Regions from separate parts of the Homo sapiens genome. Here region 2 is linked to region 1. The links come from fine-mapping of genetic effects on gene expression. Tissue or cell type: thyroid. Region 1 holds a variant in brackets; the other region holds the start of a gene. All regions are shown on one strand. Distances are between the middles of the regions.

Region 1 (8,188 bases):
CCATAAAATTACTCAGTTCTTTTACTCCCCGTCCAAATTGTTGAGTGAAATTAATACTTCTAAAAGGTATACGATGTTAATCACATGGTTTCTCAGAGATCTTGGTATGTTGCTACTACTGTAAACACAGTTATTCAGAGGTAGGACTCATACATATGAACTACATGAAAACATGGAGGAAATTATGTAACAGCCAAAATATATGATATGGATAGTGATTTTAATGGAAGAGGAAGCAATGTCATTAGAAGGTTGGACTGTCACTGTCAGTGTCTCAGAAATAACTTACTCTTTACCTCAATTTAAAAAAATCTTTTTCTCTTTAACCAAGTTGCATTACAAAAAAGCTATAGCATTAACAATGCTGTACTGCCAGATGTGGTTGCTCACGCCTGTAATCCCAGCACTTTGGGAGGCCGAAGTGGGTGGATTACTTGAGGCTAGGAGTTCGAGACCAGCCTGGCCAACATGGTGAAACCCCATCTCTACTAAAAATACAAAAAATAGCCAGGCATGGTGGTGGGTGCCTGTAATCCCAGCTACTTGGGAAGCGGAGGCAAGAGAATTGCTTGAACCTGGGAGGCGGAGGTTGCAGTGGGCCGAGATCATGCCACTGCCCTCTAGCCTAGGCAATAGAGTGAGACTCCATCTAAAAACATAAAAATAAATAATAAAATAAAAATGCTGTACTAAATTAATGGATGCTTCTATATGCAAATGATGGTATTTTTAGGCAGATCCATTTTATGAAATTTAATATTTATATGATTACTAAAGTATGATTCTTAATTTCTTTTAGAGAAATGGAAGCTTGAAACATATAATGTCTAATAACTGGATGGCAAAAGACAATCAGGATGAAGTTGGATTCTGTTATTGTGATGTTTAATTTTATATGTCAACTTGGCTAGGCTATGGTACCCAGTTGTTTGATCAAACACCTGTCTGGATATTGCTAGGAAGATACATATTAGATGTGAGGAACATTTCTCATCTGTAGACTTTGAGAAAAGCAGATTATTATCCTCCATAATGTAGGTGGGCCTTATCTAATCAGTTGCAACCCTTAAGAGCAAAAGCCAAGATTTCCTGGGAAAGGAGTTCTGCTTCAAAAATGTAACATACAAATGCCATCCAAGTTTCCTATTCTGGCATACTCTGCAGATTTGAACTCAATACTGCAATGTCAACTCTTACTAGAATTTCTACCAGCCCGCCCTACAGATTTCATACTTGCCAGCCACCATAATCGCTTGAGCCAATTCCTTAAGATCTCTCTGTGTTTTTCTCCCTCTTGCTCTCCTGTATCCTGTTTCTTCTGCTTCTCTAGAGATCCTTGACTAATAACCAAACGGTAGTAGAAAAAAAGACCATTTTAAGAGAACTGTCTGAGTTCTCTTAAGAGTGAGTTTCTGACAGTGGAAAATCGTGTAATAGAGTTCATAGTGAAAATGATATTTCAGTGTCTAAAAGTTCTGAATTCCACAAGCACACGCAGGACAATATTAACCTGCCTCAAACTTGGCTATCATCCCTCTTGCCTTCCTGGAAAAAAGTGTGATTGGTTGGTGTGCTAATTGTACGTTATGTTATGATGGTGCTGGACCATTGCATGGCTCTTAATTATTTACAGACATGCCTTTTTCTGCCAGGCTGGGGGCAGGGACCAGATCTTTGTTATCTTTGTCCCCAGACTGTCCGGTACAGTGGTACTTAATAAATGTTTATTGATTGCATGAGAACATGCCTCTGATTTAAAATGGGATACAACAAAAAATTAAAATTTACCAAAACAAGAGTGTTTTTGGTCATGTTTGCTAGAACACACATTTTTCTTAAAATAAAAAAGATAACTGAATATTTGTTTCTCAGTTAAAAGGAGAGCAAATCTTACAAAATACAATCTGAAGCCATGTAACCATTTGGAGTCTCTAAAGCTATTTTCATATAAGGAAAATAAAATTAGGAATGGAGGTGATCTTTTTGGAACATGTTAAGGTAAAAATCACCTTTTTTTTATGCGGAGTTGTTGGATAAATCTAATTTGGGACTGTTTTTTCCCCAGATGATTGACTTTTTAAAATTTTCTTATACACCTGTCAGCAGTTTCAGATCTAGTTTTAGGAGGGGGAGAATGTGGAGCCATGGCAACTGGGAAAAGTTGCATTTAATAGTGAGAAGCCTCTATTAGAATGTTATGTTTTGCATCCAGATCCTTGATTTCAGAGTAGAACTTTCTGGAACAAGGTGAGGAAAAAAATCTGATCCTATCTTTTTCATTTAAAAGCAGCTATACAAAAAAATAAAGTCATCCACCCCTTGTGTTTAACAGAGTGAAATAACTACAAAGCCTAGGGTCCATAGGCCCTAAAGCATGATGATAAAAATAGTTCTCCTCCCAGTCTGCAGAAGCTAACCAGCTAAGAAAGCAAAATGTAACTGTCTTTGTATAGGAAAGCATTCTTCATGCAATGCATTTCAGATAAACTATCTTTTTTTTTTTTCTGAATCTGGGCCCTTGGGCCTGAAAAATTTAACCAAGAACCAGCTATTTGAGTTTACTTTCATTTCCCATAGACATCTCAGAAGATGAGCCCTTATTACCATGGTTTCCAGCAAAGGGGCCATTTGGAGATGCCAAAGCTGATGGATGGACTCACTAAAATGCAAGAAAAAACAAACAAACAAAAAAAAAAAACACAGCCTAACCAGGAAAGAGGCATTTGGAGAAAGACTTCTAATTCTGTTTACTGTCCATGAAATCTACTTTTACTTAGATTTCTTAATTTCCTGTCTCTTGACAACATCTGGTTTGAGCTACAGAGGGCCTGGCTTCTGTGTTGAGATTTGTGTTTCCCTTACAAGTTTCATGTTGGTGAGCATATTGTTAGCCTCAGCACAGCCTTGATGTTCAGAAACCTTTTTATTTACTCCATTGGGTACACTGGAGGAGCCTAACTTCATTTGCTCTCATGCTTATGCTAATTCTGCTCATTCTCACATCTATATTTTGTTCACTTGTATCATCAGCCTGTCATCCGCAATACTCCTCACTGTCTCTCCACTTATCTAAATCTACGCTTCCCATGGTCTTTTCTAACATCTCAAAAACCTTCTCTGACACTTGTAGCTTGCAGAATCGTATCTGTCTTGGTAAATATTATGGCACATCTACAGGACCTCATGTATTCCCTGCTACTCCCACTCCTGCAATTTTGCTTCAGCCACACTGGCCTCTTTGCTGTTTTGTTAACTCGCCAGGCACACCTCAGCCTTAGGGCTGTTCCATCTGCCTGAACTGCTCTTCTCCAAGGATTCTACGTTGCTCACTTCCTTGCCACCTCCAGGTCTTTGGCTAAATATCACCCCCTTAGTGAAGACTTCTTTGACAGTTCCATTTATAAATGGAAAATGGTGGGAGGTAGCTTTGAAGATGGCTCCCAATGATCTTCTTATGCTGGAACTCAAGTTCTTGTATGAGGACAAGTGGTAGGTTTTACTAATTTAACAAAGAAAATACCTGTATTATTTCGGTGCCAAATATTTACTTTCAATGCCCTTTATATATTTTGCCTCAAACTATACTTTTTTTCCATTTCTAATTTTCAATTAATTTATATCCAGGTCTTAGCTTGTACTCACCACTAATCTATATAATAGAAGAAACATATATTTTTCAATATCCTTGAAGACTCTTGTTCTCTCTCATGCTGAAATTCTTGTTGAGAAAAATGCATTAAAATAGAATATTGAATTCCTCTCCCAAAGCAGTCTTTTCTTGCAGTTTCAAAGGTTGTCAGTCTTGTTGTATATGAGACTAATAATCTTAGATTTATCACAATTATCGTGTTCTAAAAATAAACAAGCAGGATTACATCTCTAAGTTACTCAGGCTCTCTTTCTCTTTCTCTCTCTTTTGATTTGAATTGAACTCTGGACCTTGTTCACTTTTAAATTCTTTTTGGCTGAATTTCAGGAATTCCTTAAATGTATTCTGCAAAACAGCTGTGGTTTGGGTACTTCATGTTCCTTTATTGGTTAAAATCTGACATAAAGAGTGGCTAGTCTACATTTCCCATACTAAAGTAACAAAGGTGCATTCATACATTTTTTTCTTCTTCAGGATCTGGCTCTTACTAGCCATAAGAGTAATATTTAGCAGAAATACTCCAATACTCTTTTTCTAAAGACCATTCAGTCCATGTAATACACATGATCAAAATTCATCTGGCTTATAGAAATGTTATTGTTTACTACCTAAATATACCAACAAGGAAAACTGTTCAATTATATATGTCAGAGAATTCGTGGCATCCAGAGAGCAAAGTTTTACAAGCTCACACTTTTCTGACTAAATACTCAAAACAAAATTTTAAGATTTTTAAATGATAAGAAAAAAAAAAAAGCTTTAGAGGGATTAAGGTGAAAACAAAAGGAGAAAATTCTTCACTTTCAATTTATGTTAAAATAAATCTAGAAAAAATAGATCTCTTATTTCCTTTCAATGATTATAGACAACTATAAAAAAAAGTTAACGTGTATTTTCTCTGAGCTTTTTAAGAGGGGGGTATAAAATACATATTTTTCAATATTTGCAATTATATGTTCATAAGTGCATACAGGATGCAAAAATCTGGTTTTGAAAGACATTGCAGAATACTCCATGTGGTATGAATATAATAAAGCCACTTTTAGACATTTACAAATATAATAGCAGGCAAGGGCTGTTTAACAGACTCTGTAAACACCAATGTGAGACTACTTTTAACCAAAGCTTCAAAATAACTTAAGGAATATGACACACTGTTTGATTCCTACTTAAAGCACTTGGATAAAAAATTAAATTATCTTAATTGCATTTAATTGATCATTAATATTTACGTTTGCTGGAAACAGAGTGTTGCTGCTCCCCAAACACAGATGCCAGCAAGAGCAAAACATAGGCTGAATGACATTGTATCCATAGCAATAATAGCACTTACCTTTATTCACTCTCCCCACAGAGAATCTATGAGCTAGGTGCTTTCAGCTGGGCAATGGTAGAGAATGCTCTTTAGTTAATAATAAAGGAAAGAAAAGCTCCAGACACCAAGAACCTGGGTTAACCATTGACACCGGTTTGTTCCTACAGTTCCTCCCTGGGAATCTACATAGGTAGCCCCTGGC[G/A]TCTTATCAAGCAAGCCATAGCCAGTCAGCTGTGGCAGTGATTACGTCACCACCTCTGTACCTCTGGAGGAGGTACAGTGTGAAGGTCACCCAAGTATATCCTGACTAAGTTTTTACTTGATCAGGGATACAAAGGAGGAAGATTTGCTGGGCCAGAACTATGCTCAACAATGCCTGTAAGTGACTCAAATATTTACAGACAGGATTGTTGAGAGACGACCTATGGAAATGCTCCTGCTAGTTTTCAGACTCTGTTGGAATAGTACAAATAAATCCCTTTCATCAGAACTCTTTGTCTACATCTTAACAGCTGAGGATTGGGATTGCATGCTGACGAAAAGCGAGACAGGATAATGACAGGTAGCTAAGCATCCATTCAGTCTTTTATTTACCAAACCTTTAATGATTATTTTTCCTGTGCTGCCTAGTTCCAAAGAACATGAGTTCACAGTTGATTAGCCCTCTGACTAATCAACATGGATGGCAGAAATTGGGGTTGGAAAGTCTTCCTTTCCTCAACCCCAGGAATCAGAGCTCGAGCCTGAGATGGTGAATACAATGCAGGCTGTGGTATAGGTTTTGCCTGGCATTGAGTCCTAATGGGTTAAATAAAATGGTGAGGTGATCCCGTGGTCAGTGCTCTCCAGGAGGTAGAAAAGTGAGTGATCAGGGAAGAGGTAGACTTATAATGCTAGAATCAAGAGAAAGATCCAGAAAATGTGAAAAGCAGCCATGGGGAACTAAACAAATAGCAACCCTAGGCTCTTCAGAACCTGGGGGAGTTGTGTCCAGGAATGCTCAATAGAAGTGTTATGCTAGCAAGGAATTAGTTTTTCCTTTGCTTCACAGAGCGGTGGCAGCCAGGGGATCTAGGGAACCACATCAGGCTTGGTTAACACTGCAAATTTAAGAGGCCTTTTCTAGGTTCTGACAATCGTTGCTGTTTGACGGTTGTTAGAGTTTTGTTTCCATTTTTAAAAGCATGAACACTTGAGGAAGTGGACTTCTATGTTGGCACCGCCACTTACTAGCTGTGTGACACTGAGAAACTGCTTAACCTTTCTGCAACTCCATTTTCTCAACTGTCAAATGGGGATGATAATAGCAACAACGACAACACCTACCACAGATAGATAATTCGTGTTCCAAACTCATAGCTGTCACTAAGGTATACATATTCTGATAGGAAGACCTATTTTGCAATCTGTTACACAATATCTGCAGAAGAGTTTGAACTCTCCAAGGGACCTATCTTTTCATTCATCCATAAATCTCAGGTAAGCAGTGAATGCAGAGGTTGCCTTTTCTGTTAAAAAAAAAAATTGAAGACTAAACAAATGCCTACATTTCCATAACAATTGCAGCAACTCTCATTGTGGTTTATCCATGATGTTGTTCAATATTATCACTTAATGCTGCTCAATTACTGCCTTGTTTGAAAGCAGAGCACACTTTGTTAGAGTTCTATCTCAAAAGACTTAAAAAAAACACACACGCAAAAATGGACAGGACTCCATCTGCTCTGCAAATACAATTTCAGGAAAGGTGATTTTATGTGGGTGAGCATTTAGATTGATCTGAGAAGACGAGGCATCTAAACACAGCGTAAAAACAGACCATGGAGAAGAGCAAGACGGGAGGCAAGATGGGGAAACTAGATGGATTCCCAACTCCAGCTGAGTCAGATCGCCATTGCGTGGCTTCATTCCTTTGTTTGAAGTAAATTCCCAGAATATCAGACACACCCATACTCACATGTAAGTAGAAAAACACTTTCTAAAGCCAAATAAATAAAAATGATATCTGGATTGGCTTTTCTGTTACATGTCTCTGCCTCCTCAGTCTACCTTAACTGATAATTAACTTCATTGAAGTTCAACTTTTGTGAACTTTAATCCTCCCCCAAACAGAAAGACAAACTGAGGCAAGTTGAGGAGGCATGTTCAAGATTTGTCAAATTACAAGAATTTGTTACTTGAATGTAAGTGATAAATAATTATCTCTTTCAAAAATCTGTAATGTATTGCTGTTCTGTGATTTTAGTATTGGCCTAAGAGGAAGTTACATTGTACAAAGGGGTTACTTGTTAGAGAGAACACTCTAGCTCCGTCACTGGAAGACTGTGGCTTGCTTCCAGTTTTTGTAAGGACTCCCAGCTAAGAATGGTTTTTACAATGATAAATAGCGGGGGAAAAGTAAAAGAAAACTAATATTTGTGACATGAAAATGATGTGAAATTCACATTTCTATGTCTGTAAATCATGTTTATTGGTAAATATGCCTATCCCTATTTTTTTACTTACTGTCAATGAAGGCATCATATTACACAACAGAATTCAGTGACCTTCAAGACCTCAACAGAGACTGTGGTCCTTAAAGCCTAAAATATTTTGTATCTGGCCCTTTACAGAAAAAAAAAACAAAAACAAAACTAGCTAAGCCGTAAAATTTACTCTTCTCCAAAAGTAATGTTCCTCTTTTCTGATTAATGATTTTCCTCTCACGGTTAAGTCCAAGTCAACTGCATTTCTATGACTTAAAATCCTATCTTTCCTTCAATATTCCTTTTACTAAGTCTTTCCTTGCCTACTATAAATATCAATAAATAGTTTATTTCAAAATTAATAATAATAAAAGAATAATACTCTTTAAAGGCACGATGTTTTTCAATCTATATATTTTAGCTTTTAGTTGCATGTCTTATTTCCTCTACTAAATTCTAAATATTTGTGGTTAGGAACTTACTGAATCTTACTCATCTTTTTTTTTTTAATTTTTAATTTTTGTGTGTTTTCAGATGGGGTTTTCCTATGTTGTCCAGGCTGGTCTCAAACTCCTGGACTCAGGCAATCCTCCCGCCTCAGCCTCCGAAGTAGCTGGGACTATAGGCATGTGTCATTGTGCTTGACTCCCTCATTCATCTTTGAGTCCAACCAAGTGACTAACAGAAAGCTAGAATTCAGTACTGATACTAATACTAATACTGAGGGATGAATGCTTTTCTGAATTAAGCAAACAAGCA
Region 2 (8,188 bases), 93 kb before region 1:
TGCTTTCCTAACCTTCCACCTGCTTCAATGTTTTGTCTGCTTCCCTGTGAAGTTTGCACTTGGACCAAAGAAACAAGAATCCTGCCCCTCGAAGTTCTAGATCCTGTACATGGACAGCATTTTTTAAGCAATTATTTCATCTTAGTTTTCTCACATTACTAAACAGACAGAGACAGCAACAACACCAAACGCAGGTATACGTTTCAAAAAAAGGAGAAGAACTTCATTCAATGAATGCTTTGTATTTTTGAGTTCTGATTGACTTCAGAACTTTGTATTATAAGCTGACACCAAGAAATTCCCTTTTCATGATTCAAAACAATCCTTCCATGTGAGTTACCATTAGGGGCCATGAGTAGACAGTCTCAAATTTCTTCTGACTTATTTCTGTACTCCTTCCAGATTAAAACATAACAACCATATGAAATCTAAAGACTGAATTATGACTTTCCAAAAATCTTGACCCCAGGACATTTGTTTGAATTCCACAAATCACACAATACCAGCTTCCTATGAATAGCTTTCCACATTTAGAATCTTGAAAGTAGCCTGTATTGAGAGACTATTATTGTCTTATTTCCATTGCTAATAACAGAATTTGTTCCACATGTGGAGCATCATTTAGAAATTTTACCATTTCTTCCTGGAAAGAGAAAAAGAGGAGTTTTGGGCTTTTTTTTTTTTTTTTTTTTTTTTTGGCAAAAAGAAAACTTTTGCCACTTTAAATAGATATGCCCCCAAACAGATTTATGTGTGTATGCAGGTGCACACACATATATGTATGCAGACTTTTTGTGGAGCTGATTACATAGCTAAAGTCTAGAACCTGTCAAGGTTTGATGGGGTAACGGTCTTAATATTTCATGGTAAAAATTGCTTTTACTGTTAACCTGCCCACATGCCTGAGCGACTTTAAGCAAGCAGAAAACTTCCTTGCCCGGTCCTCTCACTAGCAATTACCAATTCGTGAGCAGCTGAGAAAAGCTATCATTAAAAAAACAGGGCTTACATGCAACTTTATTTCAAGCATATATTCAAAATAATGTTTGAGATGCAATCAATGAGGAGTAGATGAGAACACTAAGTGATACAAATCCAGAGAATTGAAATTTGATTTGATGAACAATGTGTAAATCTCCCTTCCAGCCAAAATATTTAAGGGTCTAGATGTAAATTTCATGGACACAAATAATCATTTTTATCCAGGCCATAACCCATGATGTAGAAAGTATTTTTGGGAAATTGAGAGGTTACATGTGGTGCTGTTCATGTTAAGACTATTTATAGGCTGAGCCAAAATTAAGCATAAGCAATGGAAAAAAATAGTTCAGCGTTTTAAACTTAGGTAGATGTTAAAGGAGAAAGAGCTATGGATAAATGTAAGGTCAAGGAGATCACATGGTACAAATGGGGGATCTAAATTGCTTTGACTATATAGGTAATACTTCCAATATGGCTTATAAATAACTAAAAAAAAAAATCAAATGAGAGTAAATGTGTCCTGTAATATGGTCATGGTGTGCAATAAATAAGAAAGTTTCTAAGGATAGGAAATAAAGATAGCAAAAGAAAACGTACTGGGCTGAGAGAGAGGTCTGCTAATGAGTGTTTAGAGCAGCTATTCCCCAGCTGACGCCATATAGAACAGCCTGAGTGTGCTCTGGGCACATGTTGCTATGTGAGCACAACTGCTAGGAAAGCAGCCTCTTAGAAGCTCAATAAACATGAGGGAGGAGGAGGGGGAAGTGGGGAGGGGAGGGGGATACCCATCTATCTACGTGTGAGCCCCCTGTCTAACATTTATACTCAACGACACTTGGCTTGTAGCACTGCTCAGCATTTGCATACGCTGAAAAACAGACATGTTTGGTAAATAAAAATATACACTTAAAAAAATCTGAAACACTTAATCTGTGCAGGTAGCTGTTTTCAATCTTTCAGGCTACGCAAAAGTCATACAAGGACGCTACAGCTAACCAGAGATTCTACAACTCAGGAATCCAAAGGATGTAGAAAGACTGTGTTCTTTTATTTTTTTTAAAAGCAAAATTCACATGAGTTTAGATCAAATATTTCTTATGGAGACCAAGAACATTAAAAAATAAAGTGTCATTAAAATATGAGAGAGGAGGAAGCTAAGTAAAATGGCCTTGACCTTATCCTCACCCTTTCCACCATGCTTCAATTAACATCTCTTACCCCTTCTGAGCACCAGGATTTTTCCAGATAATGGCAAATAGAAATGAAACATTTGGAAGTGAGCAGGAAAACGCTAACAAGTGTACAGATAATGTACAGCAGACACACAACATTGGTTGGCGAGAGGAAATCTGGCAGCCTATTGATTATTAATGTGAAAAGAAAACAAATGATAAAACGCAATATGGTTTCTTTGCATATCCGAGGTTTTCAAATAACACCTTATTTCCTAACAGGTAAAATCTGAATTTATGAAAATCGTCGGAATTCACAGCCTTTTATCCTAGTGATCATCCTATGATATCCTTACCCAGACACAGACATTAAACTGCCCATTCCCTATCCCTATTTTTTTTCCAATTGTCATGATGAATCCACGCTATGATGCAATCTTTTTGCAGAATCAAGTCGTTTTGACTATTTTGCTTTCCTAAAACCACACTGTCTTCAAGCCAGGTATTAATACCATTATTACTGAAAATAACAAATTGGTTAGGGGAGAGTGATATGTAATGTGAAAGTTTTGCGATCCTCAGGCTCAAATCCAACTCGGGCTCCCGCTCTTCTTTCAGGAAGGCAACTTTGAGACACTCACTCTGTTTGAAACTCACAGCTATACTTGAAGCAATGACGAAAAAAAAAAAAAGCCAAGGATCAAGAATAGTGCTGAGTCCCAAGCTTTGCCAAGGTTTAAGACCAGGGCTCAAGACGCACCCCCAAACCCGCAACCACGTTTTCTTTCTTTTTTTCCCCACTTAGAGTGAGAACCGAACACAGACGCTCTCGCCCTTGCCTCCAAACCCAGTATCTCGCTACAGCTGGTGCATTGGAAGTTATGAGCACAAACAGATGCTGCAGAGAAATCTGTTTCTATTGCTCAACTGTTCCAAGCATGTCTCAGTATTTTTAGCTCTGGGGATGTTCTGGTGCGCACACAAACTATATAGGCATGATCTGGGACTCCGGAGTGTGGGTGAGCGCTACAGCAGTGTGACAGCTGGGCACCTCTGGAGCAGCGGGGCAGGGTAGGGTAGGGGACGGCGGCCAGAGTCCATTCCCCAGGACACACCGGCAGCGAGCGAAAAGGAAGAAAACACAGCAGCCCTTACCTGTTGCTGGCGCAGGAGCATGGGGACATGGAGTGGAAGTGGGGGGTACAGAGGCATGTAAGATCCAGTGGTTTGTAAAAAGCGAGTGAGCCAAAGCAAACCAGAATTCCCAAGACCCAGCCCGCCGGCGCCGGGAAGGCTGCGCGCTGGCCAGGGCTCCAGTGCGCTCTGCAATATCCTGGGCTCTTTTGAGGCGGTCCGTGCGACACCGGCTCTCCTGGCCCCGCCCCCGGCCGCTGCCGGCCAATCGCAGCGCGCCTGGCCGCGCGGCCGGCCCCGGGAACCGCGGCGGGGAGGGGAGGATGCTGCGAGGCGTTGCCAGCGGAGGGAACCTGCCGCCGCCTCGTCCCCCTCCACCCTCGGAGCCCGGCCGGGGAGTCGGGCCCGGGCCGGGGAGGAGGAAGTTGCGGCCCAGCTGGGACAGCAGCAGGTGGGAAGCTCCGCGCCCGGCTGTTGCGGCTGCCTGATTGCAGCCTGGCCTTGGGCAAAGCTTCCTACTCCGTCTGGAGCCCCACACACTTCCCGGTTCCCCCGCTCTTGGGCCGCTTGCCCTGCGTGCTCCTCGAGGGGCCTGCGAGGTGCCAGCGCCGGGTAGAGACCTTTGCCGCAGGGGCAGGATTGTTCGTCGGTCCCGGCGCGTCTCCCTCTCCACTCCCTCTCTGCCGGAGCCCCTCGGCCCTTCGAAGCCCCCCGCGGAGGCTGCAGCGCCCGGAGAAGCCACTGAGTCAATGGGGCGAGGGACTGGGGCGGGCGCGCAGAGCCCCCAGGATTGAGACGCGCGCAAGTGCGGCCACTGCAGCGCCGCTTGGCTGTTTGTTCTCCCGACTGTTCGCGAATTACTTACAAGGCGCCTAGGCTTCTCCGAAGGGTGGACGGCTCGTTCCCTCTCGCCTTGTCCGCCCTCAGTCTCTCCACCACCGCCCGGCACGCTTTGCTGATCTAAAATCAGAACAATTAGAGAGTAATGATTTTTTTTGGAATAGCAACTCCTACAGACACTCAGATCTGCCCTCGCTTCAGCGCCTCCCAGCCCTCCTTCCCAGCAGCCAGGCGAGAGCGCGCAGACCCCTAAAAAGCAACTTCAGTGTTAACCGGGTCTGGATCCTGGAACTTTATAAACTAATCCGTGTGTGTGTGTGTGTGTGTGTGTGTAAACCGAAGAGTAAGTGCCTATTATTTCTGAGTACTTCGGTGTCCTAACGAAGCTTTGCTCCTAAAGGACAGGATATATTTTAGGAGTCTTTCTTTCCACTGAGTTTTTTAAATGTTTATTTTCTCGAGCGATCAAATGTGTCTTTTGTGCAGTTTATTTAAACCTCGTAAGGCCTCCTTGAGTCGCTGAACTAATTCAGCAAACTAGCTGGTATTGTGGACGGCGCAGTCGGGGTGGATTTTTGTGTGTAGGAGAGGTGAAACTGACAATTCAAGGAAAGGTTCTGTGCGAGTCCCCACCTCCCATCCTCATATCCACACGTGGCCCCTAGGAGGTGCTGGTGAAATATGCTTGCTTAGGTTTCGCAGATCCGCACTTACTCCTGCCTTAACAAGTGTGCCTTTTTTCTTAGCACTGAGCAAGGTACTTAAATTAAAAGGGTGTGCAAGAGATGATGCACTCGGTGTGGCTGCTCTGATAGCCAAATGGCGATGTGGTCCCAGTTAATGTGTTGAGATTATACTGTTCACCAAGCCCTGTTACGAACTCTGTTGCCATGCACGTGGGAATAATGCCTGCCCCAAGGGAGGTCTTCTTTAACATCTATTTAGTCATGTGTTATTTATAAACAGCTTGAATTAATACTGTAAAATAGACGGATGTCTAAGAATCTAGGCTGTAGCCTAAAGCTAAATGAACCTGAGGGTAGACAAGTTCACTCTGTATTAACCAAAGGATAATGAATGAGTTCACCGCTCAGTTCAATAAGCTTCTTCTGAAATATGCTTCCTCCTGGACTTCTAAGAAACAGGCCAAAAGTTTAATTATCCCTTAAAACATGTTAAGCCTAAATAGAAAAAGGAAATTAATCATTTATAGATTTTCTCTTCTTTATTATGATTCAGTTGGTGCATCTGTAGATGGCTAAGAATTTTCCAAACCACGTGAATTCAGAGAGGCAACACTTTTGTTGTTGTTGTTTTTCCAGGTAATGAGCTCGCTTTGAAAACCAGTCACTCGGAAAGGGATGGCATTTTTATGCAACTTGGATTGAAATGGTTTTGCTTTAGTATTCTACTCTAATTAGAAAGAATACACCACAGGCCGAAATAGTTTCATATGATAGGAAAATCTTTAAAGAAAGGAACACAGAGTTATTAGATTATGGTTGGCTGTATAAATTTAGCTGGGCAGCGGGAGGAAGGTCATAATAAATGTATCCTGCTCTCTCTCATCAATTATCAGCAGCACATCCCCCAACATTCTCTCCTCCCAAAGACTGAAGGATGTGCAGCAAAGCTTAGATCTTGAAGGAGAAGGTTCGGGAAAAATTAATGATTTTAATTAGAACTTTCCAATCTAAGTAGAATCATTACCTTAATTAGCTAAATAAGGAAGTATGAAGGATGAAATTTTGCAAATGAAATTTTGTAAATGTATGGTAGCGTAGAATACCCCCATTGCTTCATTTTAAAAAAAGAAAATATAAATGCATTTTAATTAATAAATGACTTTTCATCATGTCCCTATTAGGAAAATTCTGTGTGCCAATGCTTTCAGTGTTTGATTTAATACATCTTTTGAAGTGATGCGTGATGCAGATTTCTGTATTCAGAGTCTATCTTTTTTGGCTGAATCAGGCCTTATTTAGCAAAAATCCCCATTAGTCTTGGACACGAATGCAATTGGGTGTTGGGATCCATCTGTGGATTAAATTTTTCCAAGGAAATGACAATTATGCTCTTACTGATTCTCTCCACGGTAACCACCTATAATATTAGAGCCAAATATTAGTCACAATCTGGATCTGCAGTCAGATTGTGAATAGCTGTGTGACGCAGAAGGTGATTGTTTCACTAGAAGCACAGATCTTTCCTTTGCATTTATATAAAGATCCCCAACAATTAGACATACTTTCAGACTTACATTAACCATGTATATGCAGTTCAAATTCACAATGGTAAAACATCAAACGCTCCTGGCATTTGTATCCACTGGATATTAAAAACCACTTTCTAATCTTCAAAGTAATCATCATTAGCAATAAATAGTAAATAAATCATTGTCAGATTGCCCGGAAATGTAGACAGGCTGAGTTTGCAATCTGCTGCTATGAGAACAAGCCACTTACTGTGGTATTTTAAGGCACTGTATGTAATCTTATTTATTGGAAAACAGTTTTGGCCTTTAGTTTCACTTACTGCATTGATAATATTTAATCTTCATATTTTTAAATTCAGTGAACGTATTTGTTGAAATAACTACGTTGTACTTTGGCTATATGCTAGGTGAGATGAAAGACAGAAGTGTCCTAGCGGGAGTAATTCCTCTTCTTAAGAGTTCAAAATGTCTAACTGAGAAGATGAACAAGGCAGAAGTGAAACATTTAAATGATTAAACAACAATATAAGGCAGCTTATGATTATGCACTAAAATGGATCAAGCAACAAATAAAACGATAATCTTAGATTTTGAAGAATGGAATGAAGCAGGGTAAGACTTTGTAATGGAAGATTTAATACATATGACATATTACTATGTGTAGTGGTATTAAGGATGCTGAGAACACGTCAGAAGATAGGAGTGGCTCCTCATTCAGTTAATTTCTTAAATGCCTGCTATGCCCCAGACCTTTCTATATACAGGTAATCAAGCATATGAATTATAAGTTGTTTCTAAGAATAAATGTCAGTTACATGGAAATGAATGAAAGGAACAGTATGTTTTAGTATAACTTTTGATGATTACTCAATATGATTATAATAAACATAAGCTATTTCATTTTTTACCTGCAATACAGTAGGCCTATCAGGTTACAGTAGAGCCTTTTCTCCTGCATTAAATGACCCTAGACTAAGCTTATTTAAGCCCTTCTGCTTGTTTTCCCTTCTCCATCAATGTGAGCCTTCCGTTCTCATTTTTGCTTCTGATAATGTGCCTTGAATCTGTCAGACTGTCACCATGCTCTGCCTAATTTGTTGATTCTAATCTGTGCTGGGCTGATAAATTATGTAACCAAGGTTGCTAAAGTAATGTACAAGCAAATATGATTTAACATATCTAAAGATGCATTTTTGAAATAGTATGAGCAGATGCTGAATTTGGAGTTACCTTCGCTTGGTCAACCTCCTTTTTGGGTAAAAAAGCTTCAGGATTTGGATTTATGGCATCTATTTTGCTTCTCAGAGCATTTAAATGGCTTAGTCTTTGTATTTGCTGTTATAAATAGCTGAGGAAAACTTCTGAGTAAGTGAGATACCCGCGTGTTTGCAACTATCCATATGTTTATATGTACACATAAAATCATGTACTGATGTATTGAGAAAATATTTCAGTGCTTACTTTATCCGTTTATTATTATGACCTTTATTTTCCATCAAATATGTTAAAACCAAAATCAATAAGTGGGGCTGTTCTTTAAGAAGCTCACACTTCCAGAGCCTCCATGTTATTATTTAGTAAATTACCTATTCTGTCATGCTCTGGAAGACTTCATTTATCTCACATGAGTGAGACAATTACACTCTGAAAATACCATATTCATTTTAGGGCCAGACCCTACATTACTATGTTTCTTGATTCAGTGATTACAATGATCATTTCATCTGTGTTTTCTGGGATACATTAGGTCTCCCAAAGGTAATGAGTTTACAGCCTCGGTTTACCCTCTATAACCACGGATGGCAGTTCCTTAGATCAGGTAGCCTTGCCGTAAGTGCACGTCATT

The links. PIP is the estimated chance that this variant, and not a neighbour inherited with it, causes the effect.
Region 2: KCNJ2-AS1 starts here. The variant in region 1 is fine-mapped to the expression of KCNJ2-AS1 in thyroid (GTEx, PIP 0.99).

What each region holds. Positions count from the first base shown.
Region 1 is chr17:70,072,185-70,080,372 of GRCh38, reverse strand. KCNJ16 (potassium inwardly rectifying channel subfamily J member 16) reads right to left here and starts at 5,148. Exons shown (of 4, transcript NM_170741.4): 1 at 4,983-5,148. LOC105371881 (a long non-coding RNA gene) reads left to right here and starts at 5,566. Exons shown (of 3, transcript XR_934952.3): 1 at 5,566-7,147. The variant G/A (reference allele first, on the strand shown) is at 5,167.
Region 2 is chr17:70,164,822-70,173,009 of GRCh38, reverse strand. It overlaps KCNJ2-AS1 (KCNJ2 antisense RNA 1), which reads left to right and starts at 3,608. Exons shown (of 1, transcript NR_036534.1): 1 at 3,608-6,049. It overlaps KCNJ2 (potassium inwardly rectifying channel subfamily J member 2), which reads right to left and starts at 3,478. Exons shown (of 2, transcript NM_000891.3): 1 at 3,309-3,478. RefSeq lists a silencer at 3,423-3,882.